Homo sapiens: one gene and its partners. Each later gene encodes a partner of the first gene's protein in a complex. Each region holds a gene or a part of one and is shown in the gene's direction. Other genes may lie near its edges.

Region 1 (7,027 bases):
TTCTTTTTTTCTTTTTTTTTTTTTTTGAGATGGAGTCTCACTCTGTCACCCAGGCTGAAATGCAGTGGCACGATCTTGGCTCACTGCAACCTCCCAAAGTGATGGGATTACAGGCATGAGCGACTACACCCGGCCAGATCGTTGCTTTTGTCTGTAATGCAGCCACTAGAAACAAACCCCAAACTGGGACCACTCTCAGGTTTATATCTTTTTGTTTGTTTGTTTTCTAGAAGTGGATAGATTCATGCATGAAGTTTGGAATGCATTGAGTAATTCAACATTAATCAAGTAACTATTATGTGCCATTGGCACTGGGGGAGCACTTTGATTGTTTAGGACCATCTTCAGCATTGTACAATGTTTAGCATAAGTGGCACTACCTATAAATCCCAGTAGCGTCCCCATCCTACCCCCATTGTCTTAACTAGAAACACCTCACACATTTACAAAGGCACTGGGAGAGAGGAGTTAGAGGTGGCAGTGATGCCCTGTTTGACAATCACTGATTTTCCTGTTTTAGAAGAAATAGAAATGGACTGCATAATATATAAAATAGGATTTAAAAAATTTGTTATTCCAGAGACTGAACAGGTTATTGGATTTATGAATTTGGACTAAGATTTCTGATTTGCTTCCGAGAGGTCTGGTATTCTTCAGAAACGAGGGAGTTCTCACTGAAATATTAATAGTGAATGAGTAAGAATGGAAAATACTAGGTGTTAGGTATAAGAGGTGAGAAGAATCAGTGAGGATTCTAAGACGTAATATTCTAGGACAAGTCTAAGGCAATTCTCTACATGTGAAGTAAGTACTGTGTATACGACTTATTAGTCATACAAAATTGGGGATGAAAAAGTTTTTTTTAGTGTAAATCTTGATACAACCAAATGCTTTTTTTTTCCTAATTATGAAAGTGATAAATCTTTTTTTTTTTTTGAAACGGAGTTTTGCTCTTGTTGCCCAGGCTGGGGTGCAATGGCACGATCTCAGCTCACCGCAACCTCTGCCTCCCGGGTTCAAGTGATTCTCCTGCCTCAGCCTCCTGAGTAGCTGGGATTACAGGCATGTGCCACCACGCCTGACTAATTTTGTATTTTTGGTAGAGACAGTGTTTCTCCGTGTTGGTCAGGCTAGTCTCCAACTCCCAACCTCAGGTGATCCACCCACCTCGGCCTCCTAAAGTGCTGGGATTACAGGCATGAGCCACCACACCCAGCCAAGTGATAAATCTTGAAATAAAGGGCTTGGTGTATGTATTTTTCCCTCTGAAATAGTTATGTAAGAAATACTACATACAGGCCAAGTGCATTGGCTCATGCCTGTAATCCCAGCACTTTGGGAAGGTTGAGGTGGGAGGATCATTTGAGGCCAGGAGTTTGAGACTAGCCTGGGCAATATAATGAAACCCTATCTCTTAAAGAAACGAAATGTTACACACGTACTATACCCAAAAGAATGCCTTCAACGTATTACCCCTAAAAAACCGTAACAACTTTAAACTGACCCCATGATAAATTATATGTTATCTTGTTTGTATGATTTCACACACTAGCTAAGCTAGATTAGCGTTTTCTTTCTACCTCACATAGTGAATGTTTTGACAGGCTTATCCTTTTAGTCAGTCTAGTTCTTTGCCAGTTTTCTGTAATAAAATATCTGTTTCACAGATGAGTTACTACTTTATCTTGTTGACAAAGCTTATTTGTGCTTCTGATACTTTCAAGAGTATATTGTATTTTTCAGAAAACGCTCCCCAGCCCATTTGCCTCCTGGTACTCAGTTTCCTCAGCACATTTAATTCTCAGACTATAAAAATTTGGGGTTTTGGCCAGGTGCTGTGGCTCACGCCTGTAATCCCAGCACTTTGGGAGGCCGAGGCGGGTGGATCGCCTGAGGTCAGGAGATCGAGACCAGCCTGGCCAACATGGTGAAACCCCATCTCTAATAAAAATACAAAAATTAGCTGGACGTGGTGTCATGCGCCTGTAATCCCAGCAACTTGGGAGGGAGGCTGAGGCAGGAGAATGGTTTTAACCCGGGAGGCGGAGGTTGCTATGAGCTGAGATCACGCCATTGCACTCCAGCTTGGGCAACAAGAGCAAGACTTCGTCTCAAAAAAAAAAAAATGGGGGGTTTTATAATTAATTACTATGGAGGAATCTTGCTCTTCAGATGTCCTTCACTCAGCCTTGTGAGATACTAGAATCTTATTGATGCTCATTTGAAGGGTTATTAACTTTGGAATGCCCAAATAAGGAGCAGCAAATGACTCTTGTATGCTAAATTAGTATTGACACTTTATGTTGAACATACATGACTACCAGGGAGCCATTTACTTAGAATCCTTTCCTTATAACCGTTGCTATGGAGAAGTGATAAACTCCTCATGATTAACTCTTCATAGAATTGGTATTTTTTTCTTGTGTTGTTATATAATTTTCAGCTTAGGGTTGTATAGGTTTTTCCATGCTGAGAGGAAATAAGACTTTTGAGGTCAGATAGTAGCTGTATGATCTTAATGTACTGAACCTCACTCTTTTCAGTAGAGTGAGCTTTATGGTCCCTTCCAAAATCAACACTCTTAGAGTATGGTGACACTAATAACTCACATATCAGTAGTACGTGTTTTGTGCTAAATCATCTTAGGCTTTCTTACCTGATCCCTCTTCTCACTCCTGAGAAAAACAAGCTGGAGATTTTAGTGTATAGCCATGAGATAGTTTTTTCTGGGAAATCAGTAGCTTATAGAAAGTTCTGTACGGCCTAAAATATAAACTTATTTATTTATTCATTCATCCATCCATTCTTTAAAATAGAGATAGGTCTTGCCATGTTGCCCTGGCTGGTCTCGAATTCCTGGGCTCAAGCTATCCTCCAACCTTGGCCTTCCAAAATGCTGTGATTACAGGCGTGAGTCACTGTTCATGGCCTATAAACACCTTTAGCATGTAACAGAATATCTCTAAAATTCATTTATTTATTCATTTGTACAAAAAATATTGATCAAATATCTCCAGTCATTATTATAAAGCACAGGAGACACTTTTTTTTTTTTTTTTTTTTTTGGAGACAGTTTCACTCTTGTTGCTCAGGCTGGAGTGCAATGGCATGATCTCGGCTCACTGTCACCTCCGTCTCCTGGGTTCAAGCGATTCTCCTGCCTCAGCGTCTCATGTAGCTGAGATTACAGGCACCCACCACCATGCCTGGTTAATTTTTCTGTTTTTGGGAGAGACGGGGTTTCACCATGTTGGTCAGGCTGGTCTTGAAATCCTGACCTCAGGTGATCCACCCACCTCGGCCTCCCAAAGTGCTGGGATTACAGGCGTGAGCCACCGTGCCCTCCCCGTTTTTATTGTTTTAATACGGGAGACAGATAATAACCATGTAAAGTAGATAATTTCATGCTGTGAACAGTCTTGATCACAGTAAACAGTGCTATGGAGCAAATGATTGGGTGGGGAGGGGTTACTACTAAGGCAATCAGAAGAAGCCTCGATAATGGAGGACCTTTGATCTGAGACACACAGATTGAGAGCTTACTTGAAGAATGATAAACAGAACTCTGTAAAGGCCTAGAATTGGGGAAAAGTATGTTATGTTCAAGAAACAGAAGATGAGCTAGTGTGACTGAAGCATAATGAGTGAGAGAGTGAGAGTTGTAAGGGGAGATTGAAGGCATAGGCAAAGTCAGGTCAAGTTGCATAAGCCATAAAGTGGCTCACACTTTTTTGCTCTGTTTGGAGTAGAAAATTAGAAATAGCATGCATTTCCTTTAAACTTTTTTAATGAATGATGTATGATAGACTTATTAATATAAGACTTTGGCTTGTAGTGGTAAACAGTTCTACAAAAAAAAATTCTGGAGATCTCAAGTGCCTAGGAATTTGATTTTCTTTGATATTTATAAGTTGTCCTTTCTTTTTATGTACCTCAAAGAATTTCTGACTAAAGCATTAAAGGTAGAATGCCTATTATTTATTGAATTTTCTGTATCTCTCTCTTTTTTTTTTTTTTTTTTTTTTTAATATACAGTGTCTTGCTCTGTCACCCAGGCTGGAGTGCAGTGACGCAATCTTGGCTTACTGCAAGCTCTTCCTCCCGGGTTAAAGCCATTCTCCTGCCTCAGCCTCCCGAGTAGCTGGGACTACAGGCGCCTGCCACCACAACTGGCTAATTTTTTGTATTTTTAGTAGAGACGGGGTTTCACCATGTTAGCTAGTATGGTTTCGATCTCCTGACCACATGATCCAGCCACCTCAGCCTCCCAAAGTGCTGGGATTACAGGCGTGAGCCACCGCGCCCGGCCCCTCTGTATCTCTTTTTTACTTTAAAATATGCCATGTAAATTGTTATGAAAATATTTAAGAAGTATAGATGGACCTGAAAGTAACCAGTATTCTATTTGTTAAGAGCCTACCACATCAGTGTCAGCCTAATAGAAACCATGTTGGGCATAGTAGAAGTCATATAACAGGCCTCAATTTGGATAATGGATATAAAATAAGTTGTATATATAGAATATATTTTTCTTTTTCTTTTTTTTTTTCTTTTGTCTTCTCATGGAAGAAAGCATTCTGGGTTTTTTAACTGTGGCACATGTTTATTTTCTTAGTCTGTGAATAGAGTTGATGGCAGAAAAGAGAAGCGTTATAAATAGGATGAGGTCAATAAAATTTTTCAGGCCCAGTGAATTTGGAAATTATTTGGTAACCTGACTTAAATTCTGATGAGTTTGTAATCCAGGTTAATGGTGCTATAGGCAATTTGTATTATCATTAATTTCAAGTTTTAGTGGGCCTCAAAAATAGTGATCATCAATGCATGATTTTGTTGGCATGGTTTATTTGGATACTAACTTGATTAGAAGATCTCAAACAATTTAAATGCATGAGGTCAAGGGAAAATTACTAACTTACAGCCAGGGTAGCAATTTGTTTATATATTTTAAGCTTCCTTGGTTTTAAAATCTAAAAGAGAAAATCTGAGTGTCCTAAATTTTTAAGTGTGCTGAGAGGGCATGTTGACATCTGAAATGGCTAATGAGGTTTCTTTTCGTTGTTTGCTTTTCTTAAGCCTGCTTGTGTTTGAACATTTTAGGTCATTTATAGCAAATACACTGACCTGGTTCCAAAGGAGGTTATGAATGCAGATGATCCAGACCTGCAAAGGCCCGATGAAGAAGCTATTAAAGAGGTAACTGGGAATTGATATATTCGATGACTATTTACATCCTGATTAACTTCCAAACTCTCAATGTGATATTTCCTATTTCAGATAACAGAAAAGACAAGAGTAGCCTTAGAAAAATCTGTATCACAGAAGGTCGCCGCAGCCATGCCAGTTCGAGCAGCTGACAAATTGGCTCCTGCTCAGTATATCCGGTATGAATCATGCCTAGAAGACTTAGTTTCATTCTGAACTTGATTCAGCTTGGGGGGTCATGGTATTCTTTCACTAACCCACTTAGCAACCATTATAAATGCATTGTTTTCAATAATGACTCAAAGCCTGTCTACTGTCTTTGCAGACAATTGAAAGCAGAATTTTTTAAGGTGTCCACTTTGGTTTTTGTTTGTTTTCTGAGATAAAGTTTCTGTGTTGCCCAGGCTGGAGTACGGTGACACCAACACAGCTCACTGCAGCCCCCACCTCCTGGGCTCAGGTGATCCTCCTGCCTTGATGCCACCATGCCTGGCTAATATTTTAATTTTTTGTAGAGACAGGGTCTCGCTGTGATGCTCAGGCTGTTTTCGAACTCCTGGGCTCAAGCAGTCCTCCTGCCTTGTCATCCCAAAGTGCTGAGATTACAGACTTGAGCCACCAGACTTGGCCTCTTTTTATGCTTTTTTTTGGGGTGGGGGACAGAATCTTGCTCTGTTGCCCAGGCTGGAGTGCAGTGGTGTGATCTTGGCTCACTGTAACCTCTGCCTCCCAAGAGATTCTTCTGCCTCAGCCTCCTGAGTAGCTGGGATTACAGGTGCCCACCACCATACCTGGCTAATTTTTGTATTTTTTTTAGTAGAGACAGGGTTTCACCATGTTGGCCAGGCTGGTCTCGAACTCCTGAACTCAAATGATCCATCCTCCTCAGGTCCCAAAGTGCTGGGATTATAGGCGTGAGCCACTGTGCCCAGCCTATGCTATTTTCTTTTTTTTTTTTTTTTTTTGAGATGGAGTCTCACTCTGTCACCCAGGCTGGAATGCAGTGGCACAATCTTGGCTCACTGCAACCTCTGCCTCCTGGGTTCAAGCGATTCTCCTGCCTCAACCTCCTGAGTAGCTGGGATTACAGGCTTGCACCACCATGCTCAGCTAATTTTTGTATTTTTAGTAGAGACAGGGTTTCACCACGTTGGCCAAGGCTGGTCTCAAACTCCTGACCTCAGATGATCTGCCCACCTCGGCCTCCCAATGTGCTGGGATTACAGGCATGAGCCACCCGGCCTGGCCCTATGCTATTTTCAAATTATATTTTTTGTTTTTAGAAATTAACAGTTACTTGTGGTATATGACCTAAATCACAATTATTATTTATAGTTTTCCATTTATAAGTAATAGATATCTTTATAATACTTCTAAATTTTGAGGCGTTTTACTTGACTAAATCTGCATAGAGAATTGAATCACATACAGATATTGAGGAAAAATTCAGAGCTGGTAGGGCTGCTGTCATTATTCTTTTCTCTGTTTTATAACCTATGATTAATCAAAAACTGCTAACCGTAAGTTGCCTGCTGGGATTATTATGAGTGTTTTTTCCTCAGATGCAGGCATACTAAATAGGTACTATTTTCTAGACTGCTTATCTGTGAAACTGAACACGGCACCTTCCATGTTGGAAAACATATGAGGATGGGTTATTTGCAAACTAATACCACTCAAGTTTATATTTTGACTGTAACTCATAATTTATGTTCTTTTATCCCTCTTGCTGTCTGCTTTGTCTAAATATTTTGTTAATTTTCTGTTAATACTTTGCGAAAGGAATTGAAAATGTAGTCTAGCTTAAGATTGTAATAGAAGG
Region 2 (7,175 bases), on another chromosome or scaffold:
GCTACTGGTAAAGAGGAAATGCTTACTGTGGGACACTAAGTGACACAAAACAAAATGTACCTTGACTCCAGCCTGGGCGATAGAGCGAGACTCCATCTAAAAAAAAAAAAATTGGCTTGTTGGACACACCAGGTTATAAGTTCTGGGAAGCTGAACTGTAATCCATCGTAAGATAAAAGAATTACATTTGGGATGAAGCACAAAGAAGATCACAATCAATCTATAGGATTAGACAGCATACACTCTTACATCACTGTTAGAGTTGCATCAATACTCCTTCAGCTCATATTGGTGACCATATGGAGCAGAGGTGTGGTCTTGATCAATAAGCTAAAGAAAGAAAAAAAATGGCTGAGCTTAGTTTACGAATGGGTTGCCCAAGTATGTGGATGAAAGCTGAAATTGGGCAGCAGCTTATATTACAATCTCATTAAAGAATAGCCTTGAAGACAGTGAAGAGAAACAGTCTTCCTAGTGGGCAAAGCTTTGGATGATGCACCTTGTCATCCACTTTCTGTAGAGGGAGAAGTTGCCCGGGGTTAGAATATAAATATACTTACAGGAAATGACAAACATCCTGGCTGGCTGGTCAGAGGCCTGAAAATAATGAGTTTAGAAGATCACAAATAAAGAATCCTGAGGGTCTTGGAGGAATGTGGATATACACATTGGTGTGAGCAAAAAGTGTGAAGATATTTTTATCACACATCAATGTCCACAAGAAAGTATAATCTATGGAGTAAGCACTAAAAAAAAAAGTAGAAAAATTACTCAGTTGATGTCAACCTGTCTTTATTAGTGGCTACCTCAAGTGCTGGTAAAATTGACACATGAACAAAATGGCCAGGGTGGCAAAAATGGAATATGTGCACAGGCCCATCAGCACAAAGCCCTCTTACCACAGCTGATCTACTTACTTACTGCCTCATCTGAATGCTTAACCTGTGAGACTGGTCCTTAATTTGACACCGTATCTTTAGGAGATCAAGTAGACACTTGGTGGTAAGTAGACTACATTGAGATCTTTCCATTCTAGCAGTTCAATTTTATGGGAATATTTATTTGGGGTATGCATTCACATTTTATACTCACCAAGACTCATCCAGCACCAGTATCTGTGGACTTCCACAATGCTTGATCCACAGGTGTGGAATATAATACAACATAACATCCAAGCAGGACTTACTTCATAGCAAAGGTGGTACAAGCCTGTGACCATGGGTTCCACTGGATGTATCACATGCTGCATGCCCAGAAGCTGGTGGCCTAATAGAGCACTGGAATGACCTGCTGAAGATTCAGTTAAAGTATCAGCTAGAAGACAATATTCTGCAAGAATGAGGTACTGTCTCTCAGGATGCAGGGTCCCTAGTAAGAACAACACTTGGATCCAGGAAACAAGGGATGAAAACAGGAATGTAACCTAACTCACCATTTTTCCCAATGACCTGCGGTGGGACATAGTATTTCCCATTCCTGCAACTCTGAGCTCTGTGGAATTGGTGGTCCTAATCCCCAAAGGTGATATATTCTTGCTAGGGGACACAGTGTCCCACTGAACTAAGCTCAGCAGGTGCCTGGAAACACAGGACTTCTAGAGTTCAGGGGCTAGTAGGCAAGAAAGGAATCAATGCTTTGTCAGAGGTAGCTAAATCCAAACAGCAGGAGGAGATACGCTTGCTGTTACACAATGGGAGCAAGTAAGAATATATGTGGTACTTAGGCGATCCACTTTAGCATCTCTTGGTAATCCCTTACCTTATAGTGACCATCAATGAAAAAATGCAGCAGCACCTGCCTGAAAAGAAGATCACTACCAGGCGCTCAGACTTCCCAGGAATTAGGATTTTTACACCACCAGTTTACCATAGAGAGCAGTAGAGCAGTAGCTGACAGCAAGGGAAATTTAGAATGAATAGTGGAGAAGAGAGGCAATGGATTCAGTGTGGCCTCAGGACCCAAAGATGGGGAGTGTAGTTTGTCTCACTAACTTGCCACTTCTAAATTTTTTTTAGGAAGAAATGTGCACTAGAACCCTGGAAAAGTTGTTCCTGAAAGGTGTATGGAGACTGGGTGTATGGAGACTGTGACAGGCACAGAGAGATGCTGCTCAGATACCTCTTCAAGAAAGGACTTGCTTGTAGCCTAGCTGCAAGCAGTGTGGTTAGGTGACAGCCTTCAACTGTTGAATCTTCATGTCCACCTTGGGTTTTTAGTTGAGGCCACACTCTTCTTGGGGTGGCTCTAGCCAGTGACTGAGCAAAACTGGTACAAGGGCCTAGCCATTTCATCCCATTGTAGGCCTCTTCATCTTTATTCTGGAGCTACTATTTCCTCCATTTTCCTTTCACCTTTATTATTCATAACTCTTTCTCAGTGTCTGCTTCCTGAAGGACCCAACTGACAAATCCAATTCTTTTCCAGCTCCATCTAGTTCTCCTCTGCTCAACCCTAACTTTCCTATTTCTGTTGATAGTTGTAGAGGTAGTATATTCATCAGGGTTCCCTAGAGGGACAGAACTAATAGGATATAGATAGATAGATAGATAGATAGATAGATAGATAGATAGATACACACACACGCACACACACACGTATATATATCCTATTACATATATATCCTATTTTTTATATATATCCTTATATATATATCCTAATATATATATCTATATATAAGGATATATATATAAAAAGGGGAGTTTATTAAGTATTAACTTACACAATCACAAGGTCCCACAATAGGCTGTCTGCAAGCTTGAGGAGCAAGGAGAGCCAGTCTGAGTCTCACAACTGAAGAATTTGGAGTCCAATGTTTGAGGGCAGGAAGCATCCAGCATGGGAGAAAGATATAGGCTGGGAGGCTAGGCCAGTCTTGCCTTTTCATATTTTTCTGCCTGCTTTATATTCGATGGTAGCTGATTAGATTGTTCCCACCAGATTAAGGGTGAGTCTGTCTTCCCCAGTCCACTGACTCAACTGTTAATCTCCTTTGGCAACACCCTCACAGATACACCCAGGATCAATACTTTGCATCCTTCAATCCAATCAAGTTGACATTCAGAATTAACCATCACCGGTAGTATTGTGGGTTTTTAAATATATGAATACAAATGTTCATCTCCAGATCCATCTCCTGTGCCCTGTATTGGTGCACCAAAATGCACCATCAACAATGGCCAAATATCTTAAATATGAAATAAAATAGATAACACTATTGTATACTAGCAATTATCTTAAATGCATCTTGTGTATCAACTAATTCAATTCTTAAAACTACTGCCTGGATGGATACTATTGGTATTTCCATTTAACAGATCAGGAAACGGCCACAGAATGTGAAGTTACTTGCCCCAGTCATCCATAAATAATAAAAGGACTCAAGATTCAAAATAAGTAGTCCAACTGCAGTGTTTTTATTCTTAATCATCACACTCTGCCTCCAGAAAGGAGTGGAAGCACAGCACCCTAAAACTGTAATAGAGAAGTGTGTGGAGAAACCAGTCCTGGTTTATGAAAGATTTGATAACATAAAGATATTCTTGGTTTAGGAAGAGAGTTTCCAAAATAGCAAGTAGTTGAACTTTTAGGTTTTGTTACTAGTGAAAAGTGAAGTTTAAAGAAACTGTTTGATGCCCTAGTTCTGCACGCTGTACAAACTGCTACTTCCTACTCAGCCAGGCAATCTCTTTATTCTCAGGTCATACCAGTTGGTACCTTAACCTAAAAGAGAGGCAACACAGTCTCTATAGAATTAGTTTTTCCTCATTATTTCACTCTATTTATGATTTAATATTCTCCCATTCTTATGGCCTGGATATCTTGGAATTTATTAGGCACTTAACTGTTGGTCAAACTCTTATAAAGTCTCAGGAAAATCTCTCTCTTAAGATTTTTCAAGGAAAGTGACAACTGACTGCTTTTTTAAAAAAAATTTCCCCAAAATGCAGTGAAATAGTTTTAAAGTAAATTCGGCTAGACCCTGAACACTACTAGGCTGCCAGTGAGCAGCGTGGATGTTAACTCGCTGGCGCGCATCTGTATGAACTACAATTCCCATCGTACACCGCGCCATTTCACGCTAAACTACAATTATGCTTTCCTCATTTCCGTCAGCACAGGCGCTGGATTTCGGACTTTGTAGTTCATGCCAACTTCTCTTTTTTGTCGCCATTTTGGCAACAAGACAGTGTGCCTGGATCGACTACTTTGACTCTGGTATTATGATATGGTATTTGAAATAAATTAAAGGGATAACGTGTCAAGCCAATTGAGCGTCAAGTTTTTAAATATTTCACTATTCGCCTTCTTCCTACCGTCGGTGCTCGGGAAGAGGAAGTGACGTACGTCCGGTGTAATGGCGGCGCGGTGGAGCTCTAGGTAATTATCGAACTCCGTGGAGTCCCCGCAGGCAGAGACGCGGAGTGGGGGTGGCGGGTCGCCGGATCGGGTGGGAAGTAAAAGACCCCCAGGAGTGGGTGCGGGCTCACTGATACGGCTGTGAGCGGCATTGGAGTGTGCGTGGGTCTTCTCGCTACGCTCGGGCCCGCAAGAGGGGTGTGAGAGCGGCTAGGTCCAAGCAGGTGGGGAGGGAATGGGCTGCCATGAACTGACTGCCTGAGCGGACCGGCTGACCTTCCTTGTGAAGTTCCTGGAGCTGTCTGAAATCCTGCACCAACGCTGGTGCTGTGTTGTTTCTTGTGCACTGCGTTTTATACTTAGAGCCTCTGGAGTCCATTGGGGCTTGCCAAAGCCCCTTTCCTAGTGCCCGGGTCCCAGGGTCAGGGGAGTGGGATTAATGAGATCTAGTTGATTAAAAGTTAGTTGAATTACTTGCACTCTTATGCCTCTTGCCGGCATTATATCCCTTTGACTATTTGTTTTAAATTTCATTAGCGTCTTCTTTTTCATTTATTTGCCCTGTAAATACTGATAGTGTCTAGTGTTTAGTCTTGAAGACACTTCGCTTCTCATGTGCCCGCTTCATCTGTCATTCTTGATCCTTCCATAACTTGAACTATCTCCAGTGAGGTAATAACTGCCAAACTTGGGTCTCCAGGCTCCACCTCTCTAACGAGCTCTGGGTCCTACAACACAGCATTATATAACGGAAATATAATAGTTAATTTCACTGAGTTTAACTGCAAAAACCACGGTACCTATTTCCATTTAATCCTAACAATTCTTCTGAGGTAAGTGGAGAAGGCAGGATTTGGAGAAAGGCTATTCTAGATGCAAGAATTAGGTAAGAGTTTCCTTTGCATTTTTAGATGTGCAGAGACTCGAAATAGCAGATAAGCAAGCAAACTTGGTTCTCAGCAGATCAGTTAACCTACCTCTTATCTGTATTTAGACTTACCTTGTTTTAGGATTGCTTGTGAATTCAGGAGTTAACATAAATTATCATCCTACTATGGAAGGGCAGATTTAAAATTGACATTAAAAGTGTGGTTTTGACCAGGAGAGGAGAAGCATTGTTACAGGCGTTATCAGTAGGTGGAGGAAAGCCACTTGTGTTGGTCCTGGGTGATGGACTAGTAGACCAAAGATTTCTGTTTTATCCAGCTATTATTAGGTCTGTCACTTGGAGCAAGTTACCTAAAGTCTCTAGTGTCAGCTTCATCATCTGGAAACATGTAGGTAGTAATACAATACCTGCCTCACTGTATTGTCTTTTTTTGAGTATAAAGAAAAATAATGCAGATGAGGCACTGAGCACAGCGTTAGCGTTGTATTATTGTAAATTACTACTATGATACAGTTGATGAGTTCTCTCTGTTCCTCAATTCTTGTTCTCTGGTTCTGAATGTTGCCTTTCCACCTGTAAGTGTCCTTCCAGTTGTTTTTTGTTTTTTGTTTTGTTTTGTTTTGTTTGAGACGGAGTCTTACTCTGTCGCCCAGGCTGGAGTGCTGTGGCGCTATCTCGGCTCACTGCAAGCTCCGCCTCCCTAGTTCATGCCATTCTCCTGCCTCAGCCTCCCAAGTAGCTGGGACTAAGGTGCCCGCCACCACGCCTGGCTAATTTTTTGTATTTTTAGTAGAGACGGGGTTTCACTGTGTTAGCCAGGATGGTGTCTGTCTCCTGACCTTGTGATCCACCCGCCTCGGCCTCCCAAAGTGCTGGGATTACAGGCGTGAGCCACCGCTCCCGGCTAGTGTCCTAGTTTTAAGTGTCCATGCCACTTTAATGGAGTCTTTCCCAACTCAGTTGACTGGGGCTCTGAGACTGTCTTGGTTATAAGTTAAAGGCCAAGAACTTTGATCTAATACACTGGTGTATTGGTTCCAAAAATGTCTTCTGAATCAGCAGCATCATCTCCTTGAAGCTTGTTAGCAATGTAAATTACTGGGCTTCACCCAGTTCTGTTGAATCGGAAACGTGGAAATGGAGGCCCAACAGTCTGTCTGTCTTTTTTTTTTTTTTTTCCGAAAGCATTCGAGTAGTTCTCATGCCAATTAGTTTGAGAACTTCTGCTCTGGCTCATCCTTTAGGGGCATGCTATGATTCATCCTCCCCCGTCCTCAGAATCATGTTTGCTGCCCTCCTTGCTCCAAAGTACTTGGATGCATGGCCAGCCAGTATTTATTATTATTCCACCACATCCTTCCCTGCTTTGGATAGGGTACCTCCAATCACTTTTTGGAGTTCTGACACTTCCTAGACTACCTAATTGTTTTTCTAAGCCAGCTTTCTTAGCTCTGTTAGCTTTCCCAGCTGCTGAATTTTTAGAAGTTAACTCTCCTGGGGGGGAGGGGGGCGAGGGGCGGGGGCGGCGATGGCTCATGCCTGCATTCCCAGCACTTTGGGAGGCCAAGGCGGGCGGATCACTTGAGATAGACCAGCCTGGCCAACATGGTGAAACCCCGTCTCTACTAAAAATACAAAAAAAATCAGCAGGGTGTGGTGCTGTGCGCTTGTAGCCCCAGCTACTCGGGTGGCTGAGGCACGACAATCACTTAAACCTGGGAGGCGGAGGTTGCAGTGAGCTGAGCTCTCTCCACTGCACTCCAGCTTGGGCGATAAAGTGAGCCTCTGTCTCAAGAAAAAAAAAGAAGAAGAAGAAAAAAAGAAGTTAACTCTCCTTCCCAGTGATTGCACATTGTTGAATGACCTACAGTGGCTTGTACCTGAGACCACCCAAAAGACAACACAGTGATGCATTTTGTATTTCAGATGC
Region 3 (7,038 bases), on another chromosome or scaffold:
TAATGGTTACTGAAATAGCAACTTTTCGGAGTGAGCACATCACACACACACACACACACACACACACACACACTCACAGACCATCCTTCCTACATGTTCAGTAGCTGCAACTCCAAATCAAAATTAAAGTCTCGGCTGGGCTCAGTGGTTCACACCTGTAATCCCAGCACTTTGAGAGGCTGAGACAGGTGGATCACCTAAGGTCGGGAGTGCGAGACTAGCCTGGCCAACATGGTAAAACCCCATGTCTACTAAAAATACAAGTAATTAGCCAGGCGTGGTGGTGCACACCTGTATTCCCAGCTACTCCGGAGGCTGAGGCAGGAGAATCATTTGAATCCAGGAGGCAGAGATTGCAGTGAGCTGAGATGGTGCCACTGCACTTCAACCTGGCCGGCAGAGCCAGACTCCGTCTCAAAAAAAATTAAGCTCTCAAAGCCACCTAAACCCATATTTAAGTGTACAATATAATAGCTTACTTATTCATTCATTCAATAAATATTGAAAACTTACCAGTTGCAAGTCAATTAGATTCTGACTGTGTGATAGTAAACATCATGCCATATTCACCCCATAAGTCTACTGGGAAATACAGATATTTAAACAAATATTACAACAAAACATTCAGCTAAGAAAGCTGGAACCAAGACATTGTTATTTCTTCTGTGGCAGTATAAACACCAAAAATATTTCTGTAAAATAAAAACATTTGTAAATGCCTGCAAATATTTGTAAGTACAAATTCTTATTTGTAAAGGTAAACAACAAAAGTCATGATTATGTTCAATATTGTCACTTATTTTGTGATATAGTGTTGTGGGTTGAACTGTGTCCCCCCAAATTCACATTATGAATTCCTAACCCCCAGTATCTAAGAATGTGACCTTATTTGGAAATAGGGTATTTTTGGATGGAATTAGTTAAGATGAAGCCATACTGGAGTAGGGTGGGCCTTTAATTCAATATGATTGATGTTCTTTAAGAAGGAGAAATTTGGCATAGGCATATGCACAGTGAGAACGAAATGTGAAGATGAAGGCAGACATGACAGTGATGCAGCAGAAGACAAGAAACGGCAAAGACTGCCAGAGAACTACTGGAAGTTAGGGGAGAGGCATAGAACACATTCTCTCTCACAGCCCTTAGAAGGAACCAACTTTGCCAACGCCTTTATTTCAAGCCTCTTGCCTCCAGAACTGTGAGACAATAAACATTTGTTGTCTAAGCCATCCAGTTTGTGGTACTTTGTTACATCAGCCCTAGCAAACTAATACACATGAGATGGGGCTTCATGTAGTAGAGGATGGTGAAATTGTGATAAGTAAGACCCGAGGACTCTCTCTCTCTCTCTCACACACACACATACACCTTGCTAAGATATTTATAACTGACAGTTTATAACTGATAGTACAATCTAATTATTCCCAAAGTCTTTCCAGGCATTAACAGGAAGAACAGCCCCTTCACTGTTCCTTATAGTCCCAGAAGCTTGTTTCAACTATGCTACAAGAAAGTATCTGCTAACACTACCTTAGTATTTAGGCAAATTCATAGCATTGTGCTAAACAATTAAAGACCAAAGTTTTGGAAGAAATGTCCAAGTATCATTTTTCACAGGTTTTGACCTCAGAAATTCAAATAAACAGTGATAACTCCCATGATTACTTCCTTTTGAATTAACGAACAATTTCAAATATGAAATTTAAGGGATGGACATACTGAGCCACACAACTCTAAAGAACATTGCATATAGTGTTTTTTAAAGCTTGTATATTTAACCCTCTAAGTTGAAACAGAAAAATAAATAGTAATATTTATTATTTTATAAGAATCAGAAAACACTTCCTATAAAAATATCATAAAAAGCTGATGAAAATGGCACTCAAATCTATACTCATATGACCTATCACTGTTCAAGAGCAAAGGACAATATTTGAAGGAGAATAAAAAGAGTTTCTGTATTGGTGAGTTTAAAAAATCTTGCCTAAAGAAGGAGGGCTTTCCTTAAAACTTGTATTCTTGGTTTTACACAGACATAATACTAATAATTTATATTAATAAGTTACTTGCCGTGTCTGCTTTAAGGACAGCCCTGAGGGCCCGTACAAAGAGCAGTGGTGACACCTGCTGTTCAAATAAGGCAGCTTCGGGTGTCAGCCAGGCCATGTGTGTATGACGGAGCCTTTCAGGAATCCAATTAAACTTGTGGATCCTTTCTCCAGAAAATAAAACATATTCCCATATAAATACAAAATTTTCCTACAATATACATAATTCATGAATCCCTGAACTAAATAATAGGGTCACTTGAGTTCTATATTTATCTAAAATATTGTAAACTTTCAAGGGGATGACATCATTCTATAAATTCACGACAGTGTTTTAAAAGGAGCAAATTCGAGGCAATTTACCTCAATCATTACCATGTTGTTATTGAGAAATTAAATTAATGTCTCCAGGATGATTAAATATGTAAAAAGTTAATAGATCCAACTAGACAATTAATATATTGCCATATATATTAGTCTTGCTTAGGTTTCTATGGTTTTATTGTCATTTCAAATCATGTTATTTTCTATAGTTATTATTAATAGGTGAGTATATTATTTAGTTCATCAAGTATATATTTTACAATTATGGTATTTTCTTGCAAGGAAATACCATCACCTGCCACCTTTACAGAAAAGCAATTCTTAGGCCAAACTCACAGTTAAATTCAGAGATGCTGTATCTTCAAGTAAAAACATGACCTTAAGGCAGGGCTCAGTGGCTCATGCCTGTAATCCTAGCACTTTGGGAGGCCGAGGCGGGCGGATCACCTGAGGTCAGGAGTTCAAGACCAGCCTGGCCAACATGGTGAAACGCTGTCTCTACTAAAAATACAAAAATTAGCCGGGCATGGTGGCGGGCGCCTGTAATCCCAGCTACTCCAGAGGCTGAGGCAGGAGAATAGCTTGAACCTGGGATGCTGAGGTTGCAGTGAGCCAAGATCGCGCCATGGCACTCCAGCCTGGGCGACAAGAGCGAAACTCTGTCTCAAACAAAAACCCATGACCTTAATGTTTTTAATGAATTTCCAAGTAAGGTTGATTTATATTGCTATTCTTTTGCTAGATTTTTTCCCCCTCTCAAAGTGTAAGCAGTATGCTCTCAGGACAGGATTAGTGAAACTGAAACAGGGCCAGTAAAATGTTTGTCTATTTAAGTTTGTAAATGCCTAAGTCCATCCATTTTTTTTTTTACATAGAAAAATAATTGGGTAGGGTTGATCACAAACCACAGATTTTACCAGGGTAGAAAGCAAAAATACCAATACTTGGCACAAGGATATGTATAAATAAAAATGGCTAAAGTCTCCAATTGTGTCTTCTACCAGCTTTGAAAAGCTGTACCCTGGCATTGTTGAAGCCACAATAATCAGCAGGCAACTAGGAAATGGACAAGAGCTATGCAGTTTTGAGAAATTAAAAAAAAAAATCTATTAGCAGAAAATAAATATGGGGTTTTGTTATAACTACATGTCAAAATTTTCCAAATTAAAACAGCTATTCCTCAACGTTCACTTAACAAGTGTTTACTGGACTGTTTAAGCGAAATTGTTTTCAGGTGTTAAGCCTACAAGTGTCCAAGTGCTTCTCGCCAGGATTAGAACCAGGAGACACAAAGCACGCAGGCGACCTCCAAAGAGATCAAGGTAGTGGAAATGCCTTAGATAGAGCCCACGGGAGTTTGCTCTCCAGACGCTTAGGTTCTCTGAATAAAAAGCGTTAAGCTTCCGGGGAATACAGCACGAACAACCAGGACCCCAACTAAGGCAGAAAACATAATTCTAAGATTTCTTCAGAGGGACGAGTGAAACCCTCCACCCAGGCCCTTCCAGGAGTCTCCGGCTTTCAGCCTCGAGACTCCGCCCTAGAGGCGGTCCCGAGGAGGGAGACCCGCCTCCTGATCCTAGATGGCCGAGGGAGACTAGCGCGCGTGCGCAGAGCTTGCATCACATCCGCCGCCTGGGCGCCCAATTCCGGAAGGTGCTGCACAGCTGTGGCGGCGGGTACTGCGTTAGTGATTAGAGTTTCTTCCCTGCCGGAGGTGGGATACACGGTAGCATCATGGTCGAGGTAAAGTGACACTGGGGCTCTCAAGAGTCGTTTGTCTCTGGACTGTTTTTTTTGGCAGTGCGCGTGGGGGATTGAGAGTACTTGGAGTCCAGAGAGAAAAGAGGCTACGAGGGGAGCTATTTGGCCAAGGCCGAGTGGTCTCTTCTTCGGGTTTTCGGGGAAGGGGTAGAAGCCGGATGAGAACCCGAGTCGGAGGTTCAGCCTGGGCGCGAAGCCTGAGATAATTCGTCCAGTCCTCGTTTGACTCTTGGGAGCTGGAAAGTGTCCTCGGAGGCGGGGCCTCTGTTGGTGATCGACCACTGGTACTTGCCGCCCTCGGGGCAGTGTCAGTGAGTCTGTGCCCTAAAAGATTGGTAGTCTTCTCTATCTTGCGTTCAGGTCGTCTCTTATTTCACCTCTACCCCCAGAAAAACTTGCCGTTCTTTACATCTTTCCCTGGCATGAACAGCCAACGCTGTTAGCTGGTCTTGTCCATCTTACCCCACATGTTTATTGATTCCATTCACTCTTCTCCATATCCGCTGCAGTCCACCTTAATTGAGACCAACATCATCTTTCACCTGGACTGGTGCATTAGCTCCCCGTTGGTTGGTTTCCTTGCTTCCATTTTGTTCTATAAGTTGTTCTGTTTAAAACGTAAGTTGTTCATACCTTTCTTGTTTAAAACCCTTTACTGACCCTATGTTGCTAGAACAAAATATAGGCTGTTGTAATAGTCTAAAAGACCTTACCTAATCTGGACCTTGTCTACCCTTGCAGCTACAAAGCACCATCTCATCCTCCATACACAGCTGTACTGCGCTCCTTGTATTATTTCAGTTAACTGAACTTTTTTTTACATGACATTTCCATCAGCCTGGTTCGTTCTTACCTCTGTTTTGTGCAAGGCTAACTCCCTTTCTGCTTAAATATCACCTTAGTGAAATCTTTCACAATTATACTTAGTCCTTCATTCCCTGACTCAGCGCCTTGCTTGTTGCCTTCATAGCACTTATCAAAATGTGGAATTATTTTACTTTTTATTTGTCTGTTTCCTCTTGAGCACAGGGACCATGACCACCTTTTTATCATTCTATTGTGAGATTCTAGCACAATACCTGCCAGACACACAGTAGGAGCTCAGTAAATATTTATTGAGTAAGTTAAACTCCGGCATCACTCAGTTGCTAAACCTGAGGTTCTAGCCAAAGAGGAGCTTCCTCCTCTTCTCTGAACTTGACTCCTGTAGCTTGCAACAAGTAGCTATGGTGAGTGGTATAAAGCTTTTTACATATTTAAACACGTGAAGTGTATAATCAATCTGACTTTAGGTTATGATTTGTGTAATTTGTAGATAGGTGTGTAATTACATTCTTTTTTTTTAGGAGGTACAGAAACATTCTGTACACACCCTTGTGTTCAGGTCGTTGAAGAGGACCCATGACATGTTTGTAGCTGATAATGGAAAACCTGTGCCTTTAGATGAAGAGAGGTTGGTGTAGTTTTTTTTTTTCAATTGCTAAAATACTTAACATTCTAATACTAGGGGAAGAGAGCAGGGAGAGGGAGTCCTTTAAAGATAAGCTAGTCATGGGCTAATTATTCAATAATGAGTGGTGTTTTGGCATAATTTAAGCTGATTTAACTTTTTTTTTTGGCCTTTTACAGTAAAAGTTCCATTAATTAATTGCATTTTACAAATACCCAGTAATTAAGAGAGTCCCTTTTAGGTATTTTATTTTATAATCAATCACTTTGTATGTGCTTTCAGCTTCCCGCTGCTCTCAGAGCCTTGCTGAGCTGAAATTGTACCTGGCTAGTACCTCTACTCCCATCTTTTCTCGTTAGTATGATGAAGATTTTTGAGTGGTGGCATATTTTTGGTTCTACATATCCAGCTCCAGTCTGGGAATGCATTATGTGCAGTGTTCCTTCTTTGTCCTTTACCTTTTTAAAATCTACTTAACTCCTCAAACAAGCATTTATATTTAATTTATAAAGTAGACTATTTTTAAAAGTAATATAAATGCATTTCTTTTTAAGATATTGAACCAATTAAGTACTTTGATTAGTTCTAACTAACCTGTTTGGATACATCTAGTAAAGGTTGCTATAGAGTTTTTACTATATTTATATTTTGAAGGAAAGTATATTGACTTTGAGGTTTCTTAAAGGGTATGTTAGTTTCTGTATATCTTTCAGTCAGACCCTTGACAATTTATCATAAAAGGTTTTCTATTTATTAGGTAACAAACTAAAATATTACGTAGGTTTAATGAATGCTGTGTGGTCGAATGTAAGCAAAAGAACAGATATGGTGGGGAAATGCCCTTGGAAATTTTTGATTCTTTTAAATACTACTTAAAATCATACTAGAAACTTTTTCTACGTGAATGGGCAAACTTAAGCTAAGTGTTTGTTTTAAAGTATTTATGGATACGTTCTTATGTTTATAATTTCTAAATAGTCACAAACGAAAAATGGCAATCAAGCTTCGTAATGAGTATGGTCCTGTGTTGCATATGCCTACTTCAAAAGAAAATCTTAAAGAGAAGGGTCCTCAGAATGCAACGGATTCATATGTTCATAAACAGTACCCTGCCAATCAAGGTGAGTATGGTATTATCAGAAATGTCAGACTTATATGTGAATTTTAAAAACAGAAAAATAAAATATGTTATTTTTGCCCCTCCTGGCAGGACTTATTGTGGTCGTACAGTATTTAATGGCCGTACCTGTATTATAATGGAAGTTTTGATCCTCATGGGAATACTGTTGATGACTTTTTTCTTATAGGAAATAAAAATGGTAGTATAATGATGGCAGAGATTCTTAGAGTGTGGAGAAGGTCACAGTAGAGATTAAAGGAAAAAATTGGAGAATATTCTTAACCTGTGAGGACACCATCTATCTTGTCTGTAATTCAGAAAGATGAAATTAA
Region 4 (6,900 bases), on another chromosome or scaffold:
ATAGATGAGTGGTTTTCACACTTTTTGGTCTTAGGGCCCCCTTACATTTTAAAAAATTATTGTGCAAGCCAGGCGCAATGTCTGATGCCTATAATTCCAGCTACTCAGGAGGCTGAGGAGGGAGGATAGCTTGAGCCCGGGAATTAGAGTCCAGCCTGAGTAATATAGTGAGACGCCATTTCTAAAAATTAAAAAATTAAAAATAAATGAATAAATAAATTAATGAATAAATAAAAATGAAGGAACTGAGGCTCAGAGAGGTTAAGCTACTTTCCTAAAATTATCTATCAAGTTAATGACAGAGCTAGAATGACAATCCTGGGTCTTTTCACTGCTTCTGAGAATGCTTTTCACACTATACTATTAACAATGTCATTAATAAATATTTATTTTGACCTATTTATTCATCACTGGACATAGTGACTGGCATCACCATCTATCTGCCTGGCCTCCCAAGGTAGAAACATCAATGTCATCCTTAACTAATACTTGCCTTTCATCACCATACCAAGTGGTCAACAAAACTGCTTCAAAAATCTCTCTCACATCTGGTCTCACCTTCCTACTGCCAAAGATTTAAAATAGACCCTCAGTATTTCTCATCTGGGGTTATTGCAACAGTTTAACTGGCCTTCCTCGCTCTATTTCTACTCATCCTCCTCTTGGCATCTATCTTTCTAAAAAAATAAATCTGATTAACCCACTACCCACCTATGGCTCCGCACTGGCTAAAAGATAAAAACCAAATTAGCATTCAAGGGCTTTCTCAATCCAGCTCCCAAAGGAAATGTCTAGATTAATCTCCCTCTGCCACCTCTACATTTTGCTATCCTGAACTTTTTATTTTTCTTTGAACATTCCATGATCTTTTTCACACTTTATTCATGCTGTTACTTCTGCCTGAAATGCTCCCACCCCCCTACTATCCCATTCTCTGCTTGGAAAACTTGTATTCATCAACTATCACTCCCTTTGTGCTACCTTCTTCAGGGCTCCCAATGCATACTGTAAATATTGCTATAATAATACATAACCCTACTATAATATTATTCACCTCTTTAAATATCTGCTTTGCCTAAACCCTATAAGTCCTTTAAGGGCAAGGATTGTGACTTGCTGTCTCTGTATCCCCAGGAAGTCATTAGCATCCTACAGACCTTGACACATAGCAGGGGCTCATTAATGCTTTATTTAAAAACTATTACTTATAATTATGTAATTATTATCATAATTAGATAATGAAATATAGAAACTACAGATATAGTGTATTCGTATTTTCTTTCTTTCTTTCTTTCTTTTTTTGGAGACAAGGTCTCACTCTGTCGCCCAGCCTGGAGTGTAGTGGCGCGATCTCGGCTCACTGAAACCTCCGCTTCCCCAGCTCAAGTGATCCTCTGCCTCAGCCTCCCCAGTAGGTGGGATTACAGGCACATGCCACCATGCCCGGCTAATTTTTGTATTTGTTGTAGAGATGGGGTTTCACCACATTGCCCAGAATGGTCCTGTACTCCCGAGCTCAAGCAATCCACCCACCTCAGCCTCCCAAAGTGCTGGGATTACAGGCATGAGCCACCACGCCTGGCCCACCACAGCCCCTTTCCAACTGAAATTTAATCTTTTCTGATTTCCTATCTTTGTGTGTGTGTGTGTGTGTGTGTGTGTGTGTGTGTCTCACTCTGTTGCCCAGGCTGGAGTGCTGGAGTGCAGTGGTGCGATCTCAGCTCATCGCAACCTCCCCCTCCTGGGTTCAAGCGATTCTCCCGCCTCAGCCTCCTGAGTAGCTGGGATTACAGGTGAGCACCACCACGCCCGGCTAATTTTTGTATTTTTAGTAGAGACAGGGTTTCACCATGTTGGCCAGACTGGTCTCGTACTCGTAACCTTAGGTGATCCACTTGCCTCTGCCTCCCAAAGTGCTGGGATTACAGGGGTGAGCCACCATGCCTGACCCCTATTCGTTGTTAATACCTTTACAAACTCACCACATTCTGTCACTTGTAATCATTATTTGTGTCCCTGTTCATTTCTCATTAGGCCATAAATTACATGAGGACAGCAACCATATAGTTTAAGTTTCTATCTCCCAGAAAAGTTATCACAGTGCTTTAAATACAGCAAGCATAAAAATGTTGGCTAAATTCAACATTTGTTTGAGTGAGATGGAACAAGAAAACAGGGGCAGGGATAGGGGGAGTAACCCCATCAACTTCAATGCTGTACATTTTTACATCTATCCAATTTCCCCCATGCATGACCTGAAATACTTGGTGTAGAGTACCTGTTTTGCACAAAGGAGGCCACCTTACTGGAAAGAAGGCAGAGCATTGAGGAGGAACCAAGAGCAAGGAGAGGTGGGCACTTTAGGAACTGAGAACTAAAAATCAGCTCTCCATTAGTTGCTGTAAACGTTTAATCACTCTCAACATAAAATTTTCTGTGTGGTTAATAGAGTCAGACAGACCTGTTTGAATCCCAAATCTGACGCTCATTATTTGACCTTAGCCAAACTGGTTAACCAATCCAAGTCTCAGTTTCTTCATCTGCCAAAAGGGAACGATAAATGTATACTTGATACAGATGTGAGGGTGAAATGAGCTAACGTATGTGAAGCCCTCAGCACAGTGTCTGGCATAATAAAATAGGAGCTGTTCCTCTCCGTTGGAATAGTAGGGCAGGACTTGTGCAACACTGTGATGGGAAAACAAAGATAAAGGCAGAACAGAGTGCAACACATTAGGAACATTTCAGGGGAGGTTACCTAGAAGGGCCACTACATTCTTCTCAGGACTAAATCCCTCCTGACTGTTGTCTTCACCCCAATCCTGGAAAACTCACCGTCACCCCATATTTGAGTGCTAGTCCAGCCAGGGTGTCTCCGGGCTCCAACTGATGCTCCAGGCGTCTTTCCCTCACTGGGGAGCAGGCCGATTGCACCAGGCTTCCATATGAACGAGCCCGGCTCCCTTGAAGCAGTCCTGACCCCCCTGGCGGGGGCTGTCTAGACGGGGAAGCCATCTCTTCACCCTGCCAACAGCTAAGGTTGCAACTAGGGGAGGTACGACCGAGACTGCGACTGACAGGCCTGAAGTCTGGGAATGAATATTCAGGGGATTCCTTTCCCCCTCTCTCTTCCCCTGTGTCCCCGCCTCCCCAGCACTACGCCATCTGCCCCCTCCCGGTTTCTCCTCCCTCCAAGCTACTTATCCACAAATCTGTCCCTTGAGTATTCAGTCCCTCCCTAATTCTCCCCTAAGCACCCCTCCGACTTTGGACTCCCCCACAACTCCTCGCTACATTGACCTCTGACCTTTGAACTCTAGAAATAATCCTCAACACTCTTTCCTCAGTTTGCCCCCAAGTAGCCTGGCCTCAGGGCGCTCCAACATCCCAGCTCTCCCCGGTCCCGGGGTTTGTTTGCTAGAGTCAGGAACAAATCAGGCCCACCCCAGGTGAACTGTCGCCGCAGACGAAGAGCGTGAGGATTGCAAGAATTTGTAGTACACCTTCCACTCAGAGATCCTCAAAGGTCCGCTCCGCATAAGATAGGTCACACCCTCAAATTTCGGCTCCACATCTAGGTTGTTGTCCCTCCAAACGCCTCAGATCCGCCAAGATGCAAGGGCCTGGATCCAGTTGAGCGGCAAGGTCTTTGAGAAAAGACTTCATTTCCCAAAAGGCTCCGCGTCTGCGGAGTCGCAGGGCACCATAGGAAATGCAGTTCCCTCCGAGCACCAGAGAGTGGATTTCCGGATCGCGCAATGCATGCGTGGAAGTGCGTCCCCGGAAGTACGGAGGCCGACAGGAAGAGAAGGAAAAAAGAGAAGGCGCTGTCCCGCTCTTGCTACGGTGGCCTGGAGGAGTGGCGAAACCGGAACAGAGAATTTATCACTTCTGGGACTCACAGTCGTGATGTCTTTCAAGAGGGAAGGAGACGATTGGAGTCAACTCAATGTGCTCAAAGTAAGCGTGAGCGGAGAGGATCTGGAGCCGCTTCAGTCGCTCCCTGAAGGTTGGGAAGGAGCTTTGTTTCATTGCTCTGGCAACAACTCGGGGGTGCAGGAGAGAACCAGGCGACTTAGAGCTGTGTAGTGACTCCTTTTTCGGTCTATGATCGCTGTTCTCCCCAGGGTCCTTATTCCATTTCACTCCTCATTTCTATAATTTCACTTCCACCCCTCTCTCCTATCCCGCTGATCCCGTCCGGATTTCTTCCCCTACTCCCTGCAGAAAAGAAGAGTCGGGGACCTCCTAGCCAGTTACATTCCAGAGGATGAGGCGCTGATGCTTCGGGATGGACGGTAAGAGCAAGGAGTGGCTCAAGCCTGAGGGTTCTGCGGTTAGAGGCTCAATAGACTTTTTTTTTTTTTTCCTTTGAGACGGAGGTCTCGCGGTGCTGCCCAGGCTGCCCTCGAACTCTAGGGCTCAAGTGATCCTGCCTCCTCAGCGTCGCGATTAGCTGGGTTTACAAGCGCATGCCACCACGCCTGGCTTCAACAAACTTTTGTTATTAATTAGGACAGCAGGAGTACCTAGGATTCTTTGGCGGCCAGTGAGGACTGGAAGAAGTGGAGATTGGGTCACCAGGGAGTTGGGTTTTGCAAAGACTGCTAGGACAGGGTGGGACCTATGGCAGGGACGGGCCCAACCCTCTTCCCCTGGACCACTTATCCTCTTCTCTACCCCTGCTCAGCTTTGCTTGTGCCATCTGCCCCCATCGACCGGTACTGGACACCCTGGCCATGCTGACTGCCCACCGTGCAGGCAAGAAACATCTGTCCAGTAAGTTAGGGGGAAGACGGGATGGGGAATAAACCCTCGAAATCTCTGCACACCACTCTTGGTGCTATGCTTTTAATTCTGTTTCCCTTTCTCCTCAGGCTTGCAGCTTTTCTATGGCAAGAAGCAGCCGGGAAAGGAAAGAAAGCAGAATCCAAAACATCAGAATGAATTGAGAAGGGAAGAAACCAAAGCTGAGGTAATCAGAGAGTGGAGAGTGTGTTCTAGGCAAGACCCTGCTGCACACACCAGGCTGGAAGGGCGGAGGGCTGAAGGCTCTGACTCTGTCTCCCATCTCCTTACCAGGCTCCTCTGCTAACTCAGACACGACTTATCACCCAGAGTGCTCTGCACAGAGCTCCCCACTATAACAGTTGCTGCCGCCGGAAGTACAGGTATGGGACGGGAAAGCCAGAGGTAGGAAGGCTCAGAAGGAGACAGATGGCTCTAAAAGAGTTTTCCAGTGTGTATTCTGAGGAATACTAGTGTTCTGGAGATGTTACTTAGTGTTTCAAGAAAAGGAGAATTTTGGCTGGGCGCGGTGACTCACGCCTGTAATCCCAGCACTTTTGGAGGCTGAGGTGGGTGGATCACTTGAGGTCAGGAGTTCAAGACCAGCCTGGCCAACATGGTGAAATCCTGTCTCTACCAAAAATGTAAAAAATTAGCTGGGTGTGTGGTGTGTGCCTGTAATCCCAGCTACTCAAGAGGCTGAGGCAGGAGAATTGCTTGAATCCGGGAGACAGAGGTTGCAGTGAGCCACGGTCACACCACTTCACTCCAGCCTGGGTGACAGAGTGAGACTCCATCTCAAAAAAAAAAGAAAAGAAAGAAAAAGAAAAGGAGAATTTTGTGATTTTTAAATAAAGTTTGGGAAATGGCACTTTGTAATTCTACTTGAAGAATAACAGTTTTAAAAACTATACAAAGTCTTAAGATTAAAAAAAACTTGTAAAATTTTAAGCTAGCCTTTCCCAAATTCATGATTCTGAAATCCTTTGTATGCAGAACTTATTAATATCTTGAGAAATATAGTTTAAGAAGCACTGTTTTAAGAGGTTGGGAGTCATAGGAGAGTTGGCCCTTTCCCTTACTGCTTTTACAGACTATTCTTCTCTACCTAGACCAGAAGCCCCTGGTCCCTCTGTCTCCCTTTCCCCTATGCCACCCTCAGAGGTCAAACTCCAAAGTGGGAAGATCAGTAGGGAACCTGAACCTGCGGCTGGCCCACAGGCCGAGGAGTCAGCAACTGTCTCAGCCCCTGCACCCATGAGCCCCACAAGAAGACGAGCCCTGGACCATTATCTCACCCTTCGAAGGTGAGTATGCCTAATCAGTTTCCTCAGATTTTCTTTTCTCTCTGACACCCTTGTTTCAAAGCTATTGTTTTTCCTTTTTTTTTTTTTGAGATGGAGTTTCACTCTTGTTGCCCCAGCTGGAGTGCAATGGCACGCTCTCGGCTCACTGTAACCTCCACCTCCTGGGTTCAAGCGATTCTCCTGCCTCAGGCTCCCGAGTAGCTGGGATTACAGGCATGTGCCATCACGCCCGGCTAATTTTGTATTTTTAGTAGAGACGGGGTTTCTCCATGTTGGTCAGGCTGGCCTCGAACTCCTGACCTCAGGTGATCCACCTGCCTCAGTTTCCTAAAGTGTTGGGATTACAGGTGTGAGCCACCGCACCCGGACTCCCATTGTTGTTTTCCATCTTTGGTTTCGTTTTGTTTTAGCCACCCAACTTACATGGCTCTCAATTTTTTCTCACTGCTAACTTTTTTTTTTTTTTTTTTTTTTTTTTTGGTAGAGACAGGGTTTCACTATGTTGGTCAGGCTGGTCTCGAACTCCTGACCTCAAGTGATCCACCTGCCTCGGCCTCCCAGAGTGCTGGGATTACTGGTGTGAGCTCACCACTAACTTCTTAATAAGCCTCTTTCCTGATCGATGCTATTTTCTCTGATGTTTCCAGCTCTGGATGGATCCCAGATGGACGAGGTCGATGGGTAAAAGATGAAAATGTTGAGTTTGACTCTGATGAGGAGGAACCACCTGATCTCCCCTTGGACTGATACCCTTTTCCCATTCATTCACAAATAAATTACAATGGGTGCTGAGAACTTAACTTTC

What was found.
Region 2: SNW1 (region 1) and CWC22 share a complex: the UniProt entries of both Homo sapiens proteins name them as parts of the minor spliceosome.
Region 3: SNW1 (region 1) and PLRG1 share a complex: the UniProt entries of both Homo sapiens proteins name them as parts of the minor spliceosome.
Region 4: SNW1 (region 1) and SCNM1 share a complex: the UniProt entries of both Homo sapiens proteins name them as parts of the minor spliceosome.

The regions. Positions count from the first base shown.
Region 1 is NC_000014.9:77,737,135-77,744,161, reverse strand, and holds part of SNW1 (SNW domain-containing protein 1), read left to right. Parts: intron 1-5,100; coding exon 5,101-5,196; intron 5,197-5,277; coding exon 5,278-5,384; intron 5,385-7,027. UniProt on the Homo sapiens protein: Involved in pre-mRNA splicing as component of the spliceosome. As a component of the minor spliceosome, involved in the splicing of U12-type introns in pre-mRNAs.
Region 2 is NC_000002.12:180,004,272-180,011,446, reverse strand, and holds the start of CWC22 (pre-mRNA-splicing factor CWC22 homolog), read left to right. Parts: upstream 1-4,149; 5' UTR 4,150-4,580; intron 4,581-7,175. UniProt on the Homo sapiens protein: Required for pre-mRNA splicing as component of the spliceosome. As a component of the minor spliceosome, involved in the splicing of U12-type introns in pre-mRNAs. Promotes exon-junction complex (EJC) assembly.
Region 3 is NC_000004.12:154,547,380-154,554,417, reverse strand, and holds the start of PLRG1 (pleiotropic regulator 1), read left to right. Parts: upstream 1-4,017; 5' UTR 4,018-4,109; coding exon 4,110-4,118; intron 4,119-5,482; coding exon 5,483-5,589; intron 5,590-6,564; coding exon 6,565-6,707; intron 6,708-7,038. UniProt on the Homo sapiens protein: Involved in pre-mRNA splicing as component of the spliceosome. Component of the PRP19-CDC5L complex that forms an integral part of the spliceosome and is required for activating pre-mRNA splicing.
Region 4 is NC_000001.11:151,162,244-151,169,143, forward strand, and holds the start of SCNM1 (sodium channel modifier 1), read left to right. Parts: upstream 1-3,900; 5' UTR 3,901-3,909; coding exon 3,910-3,960; exon of another isoform or gene 3,961-4,009; intron 4,010-4,227; coding exon 4,228-4,298; intron 4,299-4,690; coding exon 4,691-4,779; intron 4,780-4,877; coding exon 4,878-4,975; intron 4,976-5,082; coding exon 5,083-5,171; intron 5,172-5,900; coding exon 5,901-6,095; intron 6,096-6,742; coding exon 6,743-6,842; 3' UTR 6,843-6,900. Other genes in the region: LYSMD1 (lysM and putative peptidoglycan-binding domain-containing protein 1), read right to left, coding at 2,836-3,015; TNFAIP8L2-SCNM1 protein, read left to right, coding at 4,282-4,298, 4,691-4,779, 4,878-4,975, 5,083-5,171, 5,901-6,095, 6,743-6,842. UniProt on the Homo sapiens protein: As a component of the minor spliceosome, involved in the splicing of U12-type introns in pre-mRNAs. Plays a role in the regulation of primary cilia length and Hedgehog signaling.